Linked DNA regions of Homo sapiens: region 1 is linked to region 2. Evidence: fine-mapped expression QTL. A gene starts in region 2. The other region holds a variant in brackets. All regions are shown on one strand. Distances are between the middles of the regions.

Evidence for each region. PIP is the estimated chance that this variant, and not a neighbour inherited with it, causes the effect.
Region 1: its variant is fine-mapped to the expression of A1BG in whole blood (TOPMed, PIP above 0.99). The same link has a PIP of 0.9 or more in blood mononuclear cells.

Annotation. Positions count from the first base shown.
Region 1 is chr19:58,326,360-58,334,455 of GRCh38, forward strand. ZSCAN22 (zinc finger and SCAN domain containing 22) reads left to right here and starts at 635. Exons shown (of 3, transcript NM_181846.3): 1 at 635-755. It overlaps LOC105372480 (a long non-coding RNA gene), which reads right to left and starts at 889. Exons shown (of 3, transcript NR_144444.1): 1 at 464-889. RefSeq lists enhancers at 520-1,262, 606-935. The variant C/T (reference allele first, on the strand shown) is at 3,823.
Region 2 is chr19:58,348,452-58,357,214 of GRCh38, forward strand. A1BG (alpha-1-B glycoprotein) reads right to left here and starts at 5,041. Exons shown (of 8, transcript NM_130786.4): 1 at 4,953-5,041; 2 at 4,841-4,876; 3 at 4,477-4,746; 4 at 3,832-4,104; 5 at 2,940-3,236; 6 at 1,919-2,200. The coding sequence starts at 4,986. It overlaps ZNF497 (zinc finger protein 497), which reads right to left. Exons shown (of 3, transcript NM_198458.3): 3 at 5,906-8,763. The coding sequence ends at 7,688. A1BG-AS1 (A1BG antisense RNA 1) reads left to right here and starts at 3,519. Exons shown (of 4, transcript NR_015380.2): 1 at 3,519-4,593; 2 at 4,928-5,023; 3 at 5,263-5,406; 4 at 5,918-6,732.

The DNA.
Region 1 (8,096 bases), 22 kb before region 2:
ATGAAGAGGACGAAGTAAAGTTACAAAGTGATTTACTCCATGTACGCCCTGCATAAATGGAGAGGATATTTCCTACCATAGCTGCAGTTTCCATTTGATTTACTTCTAGGAAGTCCTTAGGTTCCCTGCCTCCAGACCCGATTTTCTTGCCTCACCCTTACCCCTCACCCCTCACACAAACACCCTCAGCCCTCCCAAAGCCACCCTCAGCCTCACACAGCCGCCCTCACCCTCAGCCTCACACAGGCACCCTCAGCTCTCACACAGGCACCCTCAGCCCTCACACAGCCGCCCTCACCCTCAGCCTCACACAGGCACCCTCAGCCTCACACAGGCACCCTCAGCTCTCACACAGGCACCCTCAGCCCTCAGCCCTCACACAGCCGCCCTCACCCTCACCCTCACACAGGCACCCTCAGCCTCACACAGGCACTCTCACCCTCAGCCTTCACATTTCCCTCACCTCCAAGTCCCGCCTTTCGCGCATCGCCTGCTGCTCTCCCACTCAGCGCCACCTCAGTCCCACAAAGGCCGGGCTGGGATCCTGTGGCCTCCGTGCTGACCAACGTCAACTACAATTCCCAGCAGGCACCGCGCCTGGGTACACTTGAGCTTCCGGAGGACGCCGGGAATTGTAGTCCTGGCGGGCGTGGGCCCTTGAGGTGTGCTGGGAGCTGTGGTCCGGGTCGGCGGGCGCGCAAGTTGGCTAGTCTCTGCGGCCACCTCCGGAAGGGTCCGCCGGCTGTGCTGGTGAGGTGGGTTTCGGGGGTGTTCTCCGTCCTGATCCAGGCTGGAGAGGGGCACAGCAGGTCCAGAAGCCGCGAACCTCTGGGGCGGCCAGAGCGAGATGCGGGGTACCGCCCAGCGGGTAGAGAGTGAGAGGCTGACTAGGGGACGTGAGTAGACGGACTGCGAGTGCCGGACACACGCGCAGAGGATGTGACGGACTGACGGACCAGGCGTGGACGGACCGTGTGTGCACGGACTGACGGACCCGGTGTGGACAGACTCACGGACCGAATGTGGTGCGGAATGACACACTGAGTGCCGGACGGACCGACGGAGAATGTGTCGGACTGACGGAGTGTGTGTCGGATGGACTGATTGACCGGGTGTGGGGCGGACGAAGTGTGGAGCGGGCGGACAGATAACAGATAAAATGTAGGACCAGTGGCCTGGGAGGGTGTGGGGCGGACCCGTTTATGTGTCTGATAGGCGGTTCTGTGTCTGACACCTCTTGGGTGTGTGTATCTGACGGGTTGGAGTGTGTGATTCTGATAGGTTGAGTGTAACACTAACCATGGAGTGTGTGACTGACAGAGATGGTTGCCGTTTGAGACTTCCTACGTGGGTTGTGAGATACTGTGAGAGGGTGAGCGTGTGACGGTGGGATTTCAAGTGTGACTGATTTTCTTTGTGTGTCCTTGAGATGGTGACTAAGATTATGAATGACTGTGATCAGAATAATACTGTGTGATGGAAATGCTGCGAGGGCCTGTGTTTATTTTTGAGACGGAGTCTTGCTCTGTTGCCCAGGCTGGAGTGCAGTGGCGCAATCTCGGCTCACTGCAACCTCCATCTCCCGGGTTCAAGCGATTATCCTGCGTCAGCCTCCCGAGTAGCTGGGATTACAGGCACCGGCCACCACACTTGGCTAATTTTTGTATTTTTGGTAGAGACGGGCTTTCACCATGTTGGTTAGGCTGGCCCGGAACTCCTGACCTCAGGTGATCCACCTGCCTAGGCCTCCCAAAGTGCTGGGATTATAGGCATGAGCCACCATGCCTGGCCAGGCCTGTGTTTATTTGACTGATTATAGGTGACATTGAGATATTTCCTGTGTCTGGGTATTTTGAAGGCTGTGGCTGACAGACTGTACCTGAGATAATATGTGTTAATATCTGATTGACTGAGATTTTTATCAGGGAGACTAAAACTTGGGTGATCCACAAACAGTTTACCAAGCATATGAGAGAGGATTTGTGCTTTGCCATGTCTGCAGCTGAAACTGAGTGACTAGTGGTCATTCAGCTGGGCTTATGGATATGTCCCCCAGTGTTTGCTTACGTGTAGCAGGGGGCTATGGTATCCATACATCTACTGCATGTTTACTGTGCACCAGGCCTGTGCTGGACACTTATAATAAATCACCTCACATAATCTCATAGCAACCCTCTGAGGTAGGTACCATTATCAGGCTTGGTATAATCCATGTGTGAGAAATGAAAAGAACCACCCTCCTTGGTTGGTAAAGCAGCTGTGGATGGGGAACCTCAACCTGATAGGAGTTGAGGTTGGCTGAGGAGGCTGAGGAAGTTTCACATACATGTATTTCAGAGACCGTCATGAGGGATTTCTCCAGAACAGGTGTTCCAGGGGTGCAAAAGAGAACTTGGAAGCTGTTGCAGCATCTATTGTCATCCCTGCCACCCTTGCTCCTCCTTCCCCTCATGATTCCCTACATTCTTGGGTAACCATGCTCAGCCTTTACTGGTCATTCCATTTGCTTAATGCCTGCTTATTGTGAACCTGCTATAGGGCAAGTCCTGTGTGCTGTGGCTCCAGGACAGCCCAGCCTCTCTGAGGAAACAGTACAGAACTAGCAAAGAGTTACCCAGGGCACTCTGGGAAGAGGACTTAGACTAGTACCAGGTATCTGGGATGACACCTGAGGAAAGTGGCAGCTAAGATGAGGCCTAGAGAGCCCAGAGGAATCCGTCAGAGACGGATTTCAGAACTCGAGAGCAGCAGGGGCGACAAGGGGCTTAGAAAGGCCACAAGAGACCCAGGAGAACTTTACAGTGCGGCGAAGGGGCTTAAACGCAGCTTGGCCAGAGGCCACCAGAGGTCACCAGCGGTCACCAAAAGGTTTCAGGATTGGGGTCTTGTTTTAGAGTAACGTTCTCTTCTTCCTGTGCCCAAGGCCATTGCTCTTTCTCAGGCCTCCTGCATCTCTGTCCAGGGTGACTTCCTTGAGCAGAGACTCCAGGCACACTGAGCGTCCTGGCTGACATTGAAGGAAAGGAAAAAGAACTCCAAATACTTAAAACTGTGGGAGTCGTGGATGGGAGAGGGAGAGGCTAAGTCTTTGAGTAAGGAGTAGTATGTGGCCAAAGCAAAGTGTCGAGGTCTCCTAGGAGAGGTTACACTTAATTTAGGGTATTCTTCCTGACTATAAGAGAAAACAAATTCACTGTGGGAAGTAGAGAATGTCAAGAAAAGTAATACAGTAGTCACCCCTCATCTTCAGTTTTGGTGAATATAGTACAATAAAATATTTTGAGAGAGAGAGAAAGACCACATTAATATAGCTTTTATTACAGTGTATTGTTATAATTGTTCTATTTTATTAGTCATTGTTGTTAATTTCTTACTATGCCTAACTTATGAACTTTATCAAGGGTATATAATAAGAAAAAAATATAGAATATATAAGGTTCAGTAATATCCATGGTTTCAGGCATCCACTGGAGGGTCTTGGAACACATCCCCTGCAGATAAGGGGGAACTACCATAGTATAAAATACCTTGGTAAGGATGTAGAGAAATTGGAACCCTCATCCACAACTGGTGGGAATGCAAAATGGTATAGCCAATTTGCAAAACAGCCTGGCAGTTTCTTAAAAAGTTAAGCATTGCCTACATGCGGCCAGGCGCAGTGGCTCATGCCTGTAATCCCAGCAATTTGGGAGGCTGAGGTGGGCGGAACATGAGGTCAGGAGATCGAGACCATCGTGGCTAATACGGTGAAACCCCGTCTCTACTAAAAGTACAAAAAAAAATAGCTGGGTGTGGTGGTGGGTGCCTGTAGTCCCAGCTACT[C/T]GGGAGGCTGAGGCAGGAGAATGGCGTGAACCCAGGAGGCAGAGCTTGCAGTGAGCCAAGATTGCGCCACTGCACTCCAGCCTGGGCGACAAAGCAAGACTCCGTCTGGAGAAAAAAAGAATTTTTTCAAAAAGAAAGTATTATCTCCCTCTGAATGTCGGTAGCACCCCCATCTAGAAATGGGGCTAGATTCTGAGAAGTAGAATTAATATTGAGGCAGAGAGCACAGTCATTTTAAAGCTCTTACAACATACTGCCAAATTGTTTGCCAAAGATATTCTAATTGATTGCCCTCACCAATAGTACATGAAAGTAGTTTTTTGCTGTCCCTGACCAGCATTCAGTGCTCACAGTTCTAGAATTTGGAAAGGCTTTGAGTGTGGAGGAAAGATCGCAGATAGCCTGAGCTCAAACACTAGCTTTGTTCCTACTGACCAGATGACTCTAGCAGCTGACTTTCCCCAACTTGGAAAATGGGAGTGGTAATACTGACTCACAGGGTGGAGCTAAGGCTTGAATGGGATAACAGATGCCAAAGGCTAGTGTGGCCTGGTAGCCGGTAGGTTCCCACTGACTGTCTGTTCCCATTTTCTTTTATTCCTGTTGCACACTATACCCATATCCATCATCATAATTATCTTATCATGTGTTGGTCGCTGTCCTTCCGTTGAGGCCATTGAGCCCAGCACCCATGCCTTCCCCGTATTTGCATTCCTAGTACAGTGCTGGGCACAGAGTAGGCACCTAATGGGGCTGTGCTGAACAAAAGTATTATTATTGATGTATGTGCCCAGCAATGCTGTAGACACTGGGGATAAAGCAAAGACCTAAACAAAAACCCCTGCCCTTAATGTGCTGATACTCCAACAGGGACAAGTAAATAATAAACAAGTAACCACATACGTGTATCACACATCAGGTGGTAAAGAGCAAATAAAGCAGTGTAGAAGCACAGAGACTTACTGATAAGGCGTCTTTTGTGTAGAGGCCTGACTTAAATAAGGGAGAGAACACCCAACAATTATCAAATGCACTTTTTTTTTTTTTTTTTTTGAGACAGAATCTCACTCTGTCGGCCAGGCTGGAGTGCAGTGGCACAATCTCTGCTCACTGCAACCTCCACCTCCCGGGTTCAAGCAATTCTCCTGTCTCAGCCTCCCAAGTAGCTGGGATTACAGGCCCCCGCTGCCACGCCTGTCTAGTTTTCATATTTTTAGTAGAGATGGGGTTTCGCCATGCTGGCCAGGCTGGTCTTGAATTCCTGACCTTGTGATCCACCTGCCTCAGCCTCCCAAAGTGCTGGGATTACAGGTGTGAGCCACCGCGTCCAGCTGACGTTATTATTATTATTATTATTATTATTATTATTATTATTATTATTATTTTGAGATGGAGTCTCTGTTGCCAGGCTGGAGTGCAGTGGCGTGATCTCGGCTCACTGCAATCTCCACCTCCCGGGTTCAAGAGATTCTCCTGCCTCAGCCTCCTAAGTAGCTGGGACTACAGGCACACGCCACCACGCCCAGCTAATTTTTTTGTATTTTTAATAGAGACGGGGTTTAATCATGTTGGCCAGGATGGTCTCGATCTCTTGACCTTGTGATCGGCCCAGCTTGGCCTCCCAAAGTGTTGGGATTACAGGCATGAGCCACCGTGCCTGGCCAACATTATTTTTTTAAAAGCTGTATTTTTATTTTATTTTATTTTTTGAGATGGAGTTTCACTCTTGTTGCCCAGGCTGGAGTGCAATGGCAGAATCTCGGCTTACTGCAGCCTCCACCTTCCAGGTTAAAGGGTTTCTTCTGCCTCAGCCTCCCAAGTAGCTGGGATTACAGGCATGCACCACCACGCCCGGCTGATTTTGTATTTTTAGTATAGATGGGGTTTCTCCATATTGGTCAGGCTGGTCTTGAACTCCTGACCTCGTGATCTACTCGCCTCGGTCTCCCAGAGTGCTGGGATTACAGGCGTGAGCCACCGCGCCTGGCCTCCAGAACATTTTTATCATCCCCAAAAGAAATTCCCAAACCTATTAGCAACCACTCTCATTTTTGTCTCTCTTCAGCCTCTGACAAACACTAATATGCTTTTTTTTTTTTTTTTTTTTTTTGAGATGGAGTCTACCTCTGTCGCCAAGGCTGTAGTGCAGTGGTGTACTCTCGGCTCACTGCAACCTCTGCCTCCCAAGTTCAAGAGATTCTCCTGCCTCAGCCTCCTGAGTAGTTGGGATTACAGGTGCCTGCCACCACACCCAGCTAATTTTTGTATTTTTTAGTAGAGACGGGGTTTCACTGTGTTGGCCAGGCTGGTCTTGAACTCCTGACCTCAGGTGATCTACCCACCTCGGCCTCCCAAAGTGCTGGGATCACAGGTGTGAGCCACCGTGCCCTGCCGTGTCTTTCTTCTTTTACTTAGCATCATGTTTTCAAGGTTCATCCATGTTGTAGCATTAATCAGTACTTCATTTCTGTTTATGGTGAATAGTGTTCCATTATAGGTATATACAGCATTTTATCCATTCATCAGGTGGACATTTGGATTGTTTCTCCTTTTTTGCTGTTATGAGTAATGCTGTTATGCACATTTATGTATAAAGTTTTGTGAGGACATATACTCATTTCTCTTGGGTCTATACGTAGGAGTAGAATTGCTAGGTCATGGGGTAACTCTGTTTAAGCTTTTGAGGAACTCCCAGACTGTACTTCCCACAGTGGCTATCCCATCTTACATTCCCAGCAGCAGCATATGAGGATTACAGTTTCTCCATATCCTTGCCTACACATGTTATCTGATTATAGGCATCCCAGCAGGTGTGAAGTGCTATCTCATTGTGGTTTTCATTTGCAGTTCCCTGGTAGCTAGTGATGTTAAGCATCTTTTCATGTATTTATTGCCCATTTGTGTATCTTCCTTGGAGAAATGTCTAGTCACATTCTTTGCTCATTTTAAAATTGTATTATTCATCTTTTTACTATGGAGTTGTTCTAGATACAGGTCCCTTATCAAATATATGATTTGCAAATATTTTCTCCCACTCTGTGGGCTGCTTTTTTACTTTCTTGATGTGGTCCTTCAAATCACAAAAGCTTTTAATTTTGATAAAGTCCAGTTTATTTATTTTTTCTTTTGTTACTTATGCTTTTGGTGTCATAGCTAAGACAGCTTTGCATTATTTTCAAGTATTCATGGAACATTAACCAAAATTAACCATACACTGGGTCACAAACCAAGTTTCAGCAAATTTTAAATGATCGAAATCCATTGTAGCATGTTTTCTGACCACAACAGACTTAATCTAGACATCAGTAATAAAAAGACAACTAGAAAACCCCCAGTTGTTTGGCAATGAAGCAGGAGAGTTTTAAATAAATAACCAATGGGACTGGGCATGGTGACTCATGCTTGTAATCCCAGCACTCTGTGGGGCCGAGGCAGGCAGATCGCTTGAGGTCAGGAGTTCGAGACCAGCCCCGCCAACATGGCAAAACCCCGTCTCCACTAAAAATACAAAAATTAGCCTCACATGGTGGTGCACACCTGTAGTTCCAGCTACTTGGGAGGCTGAGGCAGGAGGATTGCTTGAACCCGGGAGGCGGAGTTGCAGTGAGCCGAGATAGCGTCACTGCCCTCCAGCCTGGGCGACAGAGGGAGACTCCGTCTCAAAAAAATAAAATAAATTTTAAAAAATAATTAATGAGTAAGGTAGAAATTGTAACAGAAATTAGAAAATATTTTTAACTAAATGATAATGAAGATACAACATATCAAACTTGTGATGTATAGCTAAAGCTGTGTTTAGAGAGAAATTTATAGCCTTAAATATGTGCATTAGAAAAGAGGAAAGGCGAAAGTCAATTATGTATCAATCTCAAACACTACAAAATAATTAGCAAGTAAAGTGAGAGAATGACCATGTGGCTACCTGGGGAACAGAGGGAGAAAGACTTGGCTCTGTTGGGGAGGAGCACGCCTTAAACAGGCTGGCTGTAGGTTTGCGTGGGTTTGTAGCTTAGCTCTCTGTTAACCCTTCACTAGCTGAGGGACTTTGGGCAAATATTTTCCTCCTGAGTGTCTGTTTTTCCATCCATAAAATAGGTAGAAAGTCCCACCTCCTGAGTTTGTTGTAAGTTTTTTGTTTGTTTGTTTTTGTTTTGAGACAGAGTCTTGTTCTGTTGCGCAGGCTGGAGTGCAGTGGCGTAGTCTCGGCTCACTGCAAGCTCCGCCTCCCGGGTTCACGCCATTCTCCTGCCTCAGCCTCCTGAGTAGCTGGGACC
Region 2 (8,763 bases):
ACATGTAAGTGCTTGATTTAAATGTGTATTTTATTCAATAGTTTGAGTATCTTGCCATGGAAGATACTAGCCCAGCCTAGCAGAAAAGTGCAATATGTATAATATACTTTCGCATTTTAAAAGTTATATTCCCTATCCATTTTGAAATGCTAGCCAAACTACATGAAGTTATTTGCAATTAATTGTAAGCTAATCAGGAATTTTGAAAGCTTGATTGGATTAACAAACTATAATGTTGAAATTTGGTAAAATCATAATGTTAATTTTTACTGTGAAACGTTTTCTTGTAAGATAGATATACACATCCTAGTTTAATTTTGTGTCTTAGTGTGGATTTACAAATTTACTACAGTTATTCTGAGCCCAGGAACCCAATCAGATTTCAGGCCAGTTTGATACTGGCTGTTCTTAATTCTAACAGGAGAGTAGGACATCATACTAAATGTTATGTCAGTGGGACTGTGTTGTCTTTGGAGCTTAGTAAATTAATCATTTTCTTCAGACTTTAAGGAGAGTGATAAATAAAATTTGGAGTCATAGGATATAGATGTACAATTTAAAGATTAAACATTTTTTTTTTTTTTGAGATGGAGTTTTGCTCTTGTTGCCCAGGCTGGAATGCAGTGGCATGACCTGGACTCACTGCAAACTCCACCTCCCGGGTTAAAGCAATTCTCCTGCCTCAGCCTCCCAAGTGGCTGGGATTACAGGCATGTGCCACCACAGCTGGCTAATTTTGTATTTTTAGTAGAGACAGGGTTTCTCCATGTTGGCCAGGCTGCTCTTGAACTCCTGATTTTGTGATCCACCCGCCTTGGCCTCCCAAAGTGCTGTGATTACAGGCGTGAGCCACCTTGCCTGGCCAAGATTAAACATTTTTCATCAATTGTGGATGGTGGCTTATAACACTGCAAGAATAGGCTGGGCATGGTGACTCACAAGTGTAATCCCAGCACTTTGGGAGGCAGAGGCGGGCAGATCACAAGGTCAGGAGGTCAAGACCAGCCCAGCCAACATAGCAAAACCCGGTCTCTACTAAAAATACGAAAATTAGGTGGGCATGGTGGCATGCGCCTCTAATACCAGCTACTCAGGAGGCTGAGGCAGGAGAACTGCCTGAACCCAGAAGGCGAAAGTTGCAGTGAGCTGAGACTGCACCACTGCACTCCGGCCTGCAAGAATAAAAGTAAGTTATCCAAAAAAAAAACAAAAAGGAGAAGAAAAGGGAGGAATGAAGGAGAGAGATGGGGTTGGGGGGCAGAGATGAGAGAGAGAGAAAGAAGAAAAAAGAAGAAAGAAAAGAGAGAAAGAAGGAAGGAAGAAAGAAAGAAGGAAAGAGAAAGAAAGAAAGAGGAAGGAAGGCAGGAAAGAAAAGAAAGAAAGTGAAAGAAAAGAGAAAACGGTGCTCCCAGCAAAGGGTACGACCTCAAGATCTGGAGGTCAGACCTGTGCCCTCACGCTCTGCTGGGCTCTGAGTCCTGGAGACGTCGATGAGGAAATCAGAGGGACAAACAGAGCTGGGGACGGCGGGGATGGGGAGAAGGACACATCAGCCGTGCGCCTGCGGGACCGGGGCCGGGGCGGGGGGTCCAGTATGACGACTGACATGGCCAGTAATAAAACAAGGCAGCCACAGAGCTGCAGGGATCTGAACAAGAAAACCTGGGGCCAGCCTCCCTGCTGCCGACCACCACGCTACACGTGACCTACGGGCTTGCGTCCGTGGGAAATAAGCCGAAATTCCAGGCGTCCCCAGACCCTCGACCACCGATCGCCTGCTCCCCGCCGGGGTAGGCGATGGGGGCTGAACCAAGGCCCAGAGCGCCGCCGTCGGACGCCCAAGGAAAGAGGGGAAAGACAGGAGGCCCCGAGGGGCACTGAACCCGCGCCCGCCCTCGCTGGTGCCCCGCCAGCTCACCGTCCACGTGCAGCTCCAAGCGCTCGCTGGGCGCGGAGCCCCCGAAAGGCGGCTTCAGGTCCACGTAGACGCAGCTGTAGTTGGCGGAGTCAGCCACGGAAATGTTGTGCAGCTCGAAGAGCGCCTCGGTCCCAGCGGGGCTCTGGAAACGGTGCACGCGGCGCCCGCCCCTGTCCTCGCGCACCAGGGCGAAGCGCGCGCCCTCCAGGGGCGCCAGGCACCGCAGCCGCAAGGCCCTGCCGGACTCCGGCTCCGGGGAGAACTCCGGCGCGGGCAGCGTCTCTGCGGAGCAGCACACGGGCTGACCCGGGCGCCCAGCGGCTGGCTCGGCCCTAACGCGTGGTCTGGCCTCGCGCTCTTTGCCTTGGCTGAGTCTTCTGCCCGCAATGACCTGGCCAGCTTCCTCCCTCGCCTCCTCCGGGCCCGCCCCACCTTTGCATCCCAGTCCTTGGATATCTCACACGCACCCTTTCACTGTTTCTTAGTAATTTGTTTGTCTACAGACACAGACGGGAAGCGGGGACGGGGACATGTTTTGTGCATGGCTTGATGCCTGGTGCACGATGCCGCTCAGTAGTGGATTTGCTCCACGAGCGTCTTCTGAGCACCGCCCCAATGCCCGCCCCACGGAGGGGCCCCTGTGGTCCGCTGGGCATGGGGTTCGCTGTCCGGTGCTCAGAGTTTGCTAAATACCATCAGGTCCAAGGCAAGCGAGCGGAGGAGCTGCCTCAGCAGAGGCCCTCAGTGCTCACCTAGACCTGGCAGCTGGGATGGGACCTGCCAGGTGGTGCCCCCTGTGGCCTGGGCCAGACCTGTTCACCCAGTTATTCCCTGTGGGGCCTGAAGGTTGTCACGCTCATCATCATATTTGCAGTTTAGGACCCTGAATCGGCGGGTGGGCGGATAAAGTTGGTATTGGACCCTGGCCCAGAGCACTGCACTTCCCCAGACTCTACACCTGGTACTGCTCCTGCTCCCCAGGGACCCAGCCGCGTCCCTGTCCCTGCTGGCCCCGGCTCACCATCGCTCAGAATCAGCTCGACCGGCGCGCTGTCCCCGGACCAGCCGTTTTGGTTGTCATGCAGCCGGTAGCGGCAGGTGTAGTGACCTCCATCCCCCAGGGCCACCGCGTTCAGGTGAAAGAAGATGCGATCTGGGCTGGTGCTGCTCCTGGGTACCAGCAGCTCTTTCTCCCCGCGCCGTAGCTGGAAGTCCACTCCACTCAGGGGAGCCACGCAGGTGAGGGTCACCTTGTTGCCAGGGTGCAGGACCTGGGAGGACTCTCCATGGTGCATCAGCACAGGCGGTGGTGGTGCAGCTGCAATGCAGGCAGCATTACTAGGCTGCCCCATCCCTGGAGCTGCCCTCTGCCCAGTCCCCAGACCTCTGCCCTCCGGGTGGCAATCCCAGGAACACCCTTCCATTCTTTTTTTTTTTTTTTTTTGAAACGGAGTTTCGCTCTTGTTGCCCAGGCTGGAGTGCAGTGGCGCCACTCAGCTCACTGCAAGCTCTGCCTCCCAGGTTCAAGGGATTCTCCTGCCTCAGCCTCCTGAGTAGCTGGTACTACAGGCACCTGCCACCACACCTGGCTAATTTTTGTATTTTTAGTAGAGACGGGGTTTCGTCATGTTGGGTAGACTGGTCTCGATCTCTTGACCTCATGATCCGCTGGCCTCAGCCTCCCAAAGTGCTGGGATTATAGGCGTGAGCCACCGCACCCGGCCTCACCCTTCCATTCTTTGGGCATCCTCTGCCCAAACTCCTTTGCAACCATCAGACCCAGGCAACCGTGTGGCCAGCTTCCTGGACCTGGTCCTGGGCAAGGACATTCAGCATGGAGGTCAGGATGAATGTGGTCATGCCCCCTGTATCCTCCTCCCCCAGCAGCCCCCAGAGATGGTTCCCACAGTCACCGAGCTCCTCAATGGTCACAGTAGCGCTGGGCTCAGAGAGGGCGCCTTCCCCATCGGTCCGGTAGCTGCAGCTGTAGTTGCCAGGCTGATGGACTGGAAAGGTGGCCTCCACATCCTCCTGGGCCTCAGGCACCTCCAGAAACTCATGGTCGCCCTCCCGCCTCAGCAGAAAAGTCACACCCCGCAGCACACCTCGGCACACTGCTGTTGTTTTCAGGCCGGGGGTGATCCAGGACACTGGCGCCATCGAGAGCCAGGGAGCAGGCAAGGACTCTGTGGGTGGGGTGGAGTTGAAGAGTGCTTCTGCATAACAGGAGACGTGGGAAGCCCAGCAGAACCTGGGCCCCACACTCATAAGACTGTGAAGGAGACAGGGATGGAGGGCATTGCTGGGAAAAGGCAGGCAGGCACCAGTGGAAACAAGGCATACGGCAAGAGAAAAAGAGTGTGTGGGAGCTGTACGGCATGCCGGGCCTGCTGGGGACACAACCATGTATTCCTTACAACACAGACATCATCCCCATTTGACAGATGGGAAGATTGGGGCTTGGGGCTCAGAGACATCGGGTGACTTGGAGGAAGGGAGACCCCCCAGTCAACAACCTACCCACTGCCTCCTGGCCCCCAATTCATGCCCCGGCTCACTTGGCCCTGTCAGCTCCAGGAGCTTGCTCAGCTGGGTCCATCCTGTGGACAAGCCCGAGCGGCAGCGGTAGCGGCCCTGGGTGTCACCCGTCAGCAGGAACTGGTGCTTGATGGCAGGTGAGTCAAGGTGCACAGGCTCCTGGGCCACCCCATTCTTGAACAGCTGGAAGTCTGGAGTCTCCAGGTGGGCCTGGCACGTCAGCGTCACATTGGCCAAGGGTTTCAGCAGTGATTCGGACTCTGCCCACAGGCTGGGCTGCGTCTCATAAACTGCAAGGGGTGGCTGGGATCAGCTCAGTGCCACAGAGACAGGGCTCCCCCCCGGCCTGGGCCCACCATTCCCAGACCTCACCCCTGCACTCACATATGGCTGCTTCTGTCACTGGGCCCCAGGTGACACCTGCGGAGACAGCCCCCGTAAGGCTCCTGTTCCCGCCCCCTCCCGCCCCAGGGACCCAGACCCCAGGAGGCCTCACCCCACAGCAAGAGAAAGACCACGAGCATGGACATGATGGTCGCGCTCACTCCGGTGCAGTGAGTGTCTGGGGTGAGCGTCTGCAGCAATGAGGCCCCAAGGGAGGGCGGTGGGGTGGCTCGGGCACTGACCTCTTCCCGTGTTTGTCCTTCCCGGAAGGCGGGGGCAGGGCCCCCATGGGGTCAGGGCAAAGGGTGAACTTCTGAGGCCTCAGGATGCCCAGCAACAATTATAATCAATAATCATGTATGATTAATAAACTAAATCAAGAGTGATAAAATGATGTTAAAACCACCTCATCCTCATTTCAGTGATGGATCCTAGAACCTGTTCTAGAAGGAGACGCTGAGTTCTCCCCACTCTACCTGGAGCTGCTGAGGTCAAGTGGAGAGTGCCGGGGCTGAAGCCCAGCGAGCCCCTCCCTGTCACACCACACTGCACATGTGACACCAAAGGTGGGGTTCACCTCTTTTCAGACTTTCTGCGGTTGCCCTCACATGGGCTGTCTGGAGGTGCACCCTCACTCTTCCTGAGGACTGTGGTTCCTTCTCCATCACTGGTTCATTCTGCATGGTGTGACCCACCACGGCTCTGGAGTCGGATTTCCACCCAGGTCATTCAGCTGAGACCTGCGCTTCCCAGGCCTACCCGTGACATGTGCTCAGTTACCTGAGCTGCTGGTGGTCACTCATGTGGCTATAGCCTGCTGCCTGGAGGCCAGGCCTCCCGCTTCCCCTGCCTCCCCCTCTCCTCACCACAGCCTGTTGGGATGGAACAGGACAGGGGTGAGACCGTGGTGCTTTCACACTCAGCCTCCATGGACATCCTGTCATTCCCACCCGGGGAGGTCTGGTCCCCACCCTGGGTGTCCCAGCCTAGCTCCGCTACGAGTGTGAGGGCCCAGGGCAACCGCCTAGCCCTCATCTGCCCCCTGCACTGCATCCTCCCCACTCATTCATTCCACAGGCATTTATTGAGCATCTACTGTGTGCCAGATGCAAAGAAGACAGTGGGATAACTGGGCAAGGAGCATTCCAGGCAGAGGGAACAGCCAGTGCAAACATGGGAGATGCGGGTGCAGTGAGAAGGAGCAGAGGAGACCAGGAGTTGAGGCGACTGCAGAGCGATTGCAGAGCTCATAGACGTGATGAAGACCAGCTGGGCACTGCAGCGGCTCTGGCTTCTGCTGTGAGGGACGGGGAGCTGTGGAGACTCCCTCTGTTTGGTCCCATTTCCATATTGCTGAGCACCTGCTGCATGCTCTCTGTCCTGCTCAGAGCCAGTACCTGGATGGAGGCTGTGTGTTCTGGGTGGACTGGGGGAGAATGCATTCTTTGCAGAAGAGACAACCAGGTGCTGAGGCCTGAAGTCATAACCAGACCTGGGGCACTCAGACAAGGACTGGTGGCCAGGCCAGAGGAGCAGAGCTCAGGGTGTGCACAGAACTCAGAAGTCAGACCACTGAACAGTGACAGAACCTTTCAGCCCATTGGCAATGAGGCTGCCCAGGCAGCCAGAGGCCTGGTCAAATCTGAGGTCTGCAGAGATGGAGCTGTCATTCTGTGTTTCCTTTGGCAGTCCCAACACCAGCCTCGTTGCACCCTCCTCTTAGCTTCCCTGGGTTCTCCAGCCCTAAGGGTGGTAGCAGCTTCCTGCAAGTATCCAGCTCTGAGATTCTGCAACATCCACTTTTGCTCTCTGAGCCTTGCAAAACCTGCACAATCAGTCCCTAACTTATATCCCCTCTGTTTGAAATACCTAGTGTGGTTTCTATTTCCTGACTTGACTCTGACTGGTGTGGTACTTGGTATAAAGAAGGTTCCCTGGCCAGGTGCGGTGGCTCACGCCTATAATCCCAACGCTTTGGGAGGCTGAGGCAGGAGGATCACTTGAGCCCAGGAGTTTTGAGACCCGCCTAGGCAACATGGTGAGACACTGTCCTTACAAAAAATTTTAAAATTAGCCAGGTGTAGTGACGCAAGTCTGTCATCCCAGCTGCTTGGGAGGCTGAGGTGGGAGGATCACCTGAGCCTAAGAAGTCGCGGCTGCAATAAACAGTGATTGCACCACTGCACTCCAGCCTGGGTGACAGAGTGAAACCCTGCCCCCTCCCCCAAAAAAGAAAAGTCCCATGAAACAGACCTACACAGGTGAGATTCTGAGATTGATCTGGTTCTGACCTCGGTCAGGAATGCAGTGCTGAGCTTCTTGCCAACAGAATATGAGACACTAGAAAGCCATAGCATGCGGTTTCATCATGTTTAACTGTCACCTGTGGTTGCCTGAGATGAAGTGCTGACTGAAGCGAGCACCTTAGGAGACACAGTGGCCACTGCACTGAGCAGCTGGTAGCAGCAGTGGTGACCATGTGGACTGGGGGGTGGGTTGGCTGCTTTTGACAGTGCCAGAGAACTCAAAGAAATAGCCACACCTGTCGGAGACCCCAGTTCTTGCCCACCTCTGCATGGACGAACCTCTCGCCGAAGTGGAGCCTGCCGCCCTCCCTGGGGTAAGAGCCCATCCTACATGTCCCCAGACAGGCCTGGGTGGCCGGTGGACTATCGTCAAAGGGACTGTGCAGCCAGGGTTCTCCACACCCAAGGCCGCCCCTGCACTCCCAGCAGGAGGGCGCCCGCACCGGCGGCCCGAAAAAGTCTGGGCCAGCAGACAGCGCACTCACGCCCGAGACCCCGCAATGCCGTGTGTCCGCGACCTCCCGCTCAGGGCGTCCTCGGGTCAGGGCGCAGCGCGGCCCCCGTGCCGCTTCTGGTGCTCGTTGAGGTTGCAACGGTGGCTGAAAGGCTTCCCGCACTCGCCGCAAGCGTAGGGCCTCTCGCCCGTGTGCGTGCGCCGGTGGCTTAAGAGCTCCGACTTGCGCACGAAGGCCTTGCTGCAGTGGGCGCAGACGAACGGCCTCTCGCCAGAGTGCAGGCGCTGGTGCTGGCGCAGCTCGGAGCTGCCGCGGAAGGCCTTGCCGCATTCTGCGCAGGCGAAGGGTCGCTCTCCCGTGTGCGAAAGCCGGTGGTGCGCCAGGCCGGAACTGCCGCGGAAGGCCTTGCCGCAGTCGGCGCAGGCGAAGGGCTTGGCGCCCGAGTGCGTGCGCCGGTGGCTCAGTAGGTTGGAGCGCTGGCTGAAGGCCTTGCCGCACTGGGCGCACGCATGAGGCTTCTCGCCCGTGTGCACGCGCCGGTGCTCCGCCAGGTAGGAGCCCATGACGAAAGCCTGGCCGCACTCGGCGCACTCGAAGGGCCGCTCACCAGTGTGCGTGCGCTGGTGCTGCAGGAGCTGCGAGCTCTCGCGGAAAGCCTTTCCGCACTCGGCGCAGGGGAAGGGCTTCTCGCTGCTGTGCGTGCGCCGGTGCTGCCGCAGCCCCGCCACACGCACGAAGGCCTTGCCGCAGTCGGGACAGGCGTGTGGCCGTGCGCCCGCGTGGATCTTCAGGTGCTCGGCCAGGTTGGAGCTCTGGCTGAAGGCCTTGCCACAGTCCCGGCAGGCGTGCGGCCGCGCGCCCGTGTGCACGCGCCGGTGCTCCAGGAAATTGGAGTTCCAGCTGAAGGCCTTGCCGCACTCCGGGCACTCGTAGGGCTTCTCGCCCGTGTGCGTGCGTCGGTGCTGCACCAGCGTGGTGCTTCGGCCGAAGGACTTGCCGCAGTCCGGGCAGCGGAAGGGCTTCAGGCCGCTGTGTGTCTCCTGGTGGTGGATGAGCTGCGAGTGCGCGCGGAAGGCCTTGCCGCACTCCCTGCAAGCGTAGGGCTTCTCGCCGCTGTGGATGCGCTGGTGCTGGCTGAGGTTGGAGCTCCAGGCGAAGGCCT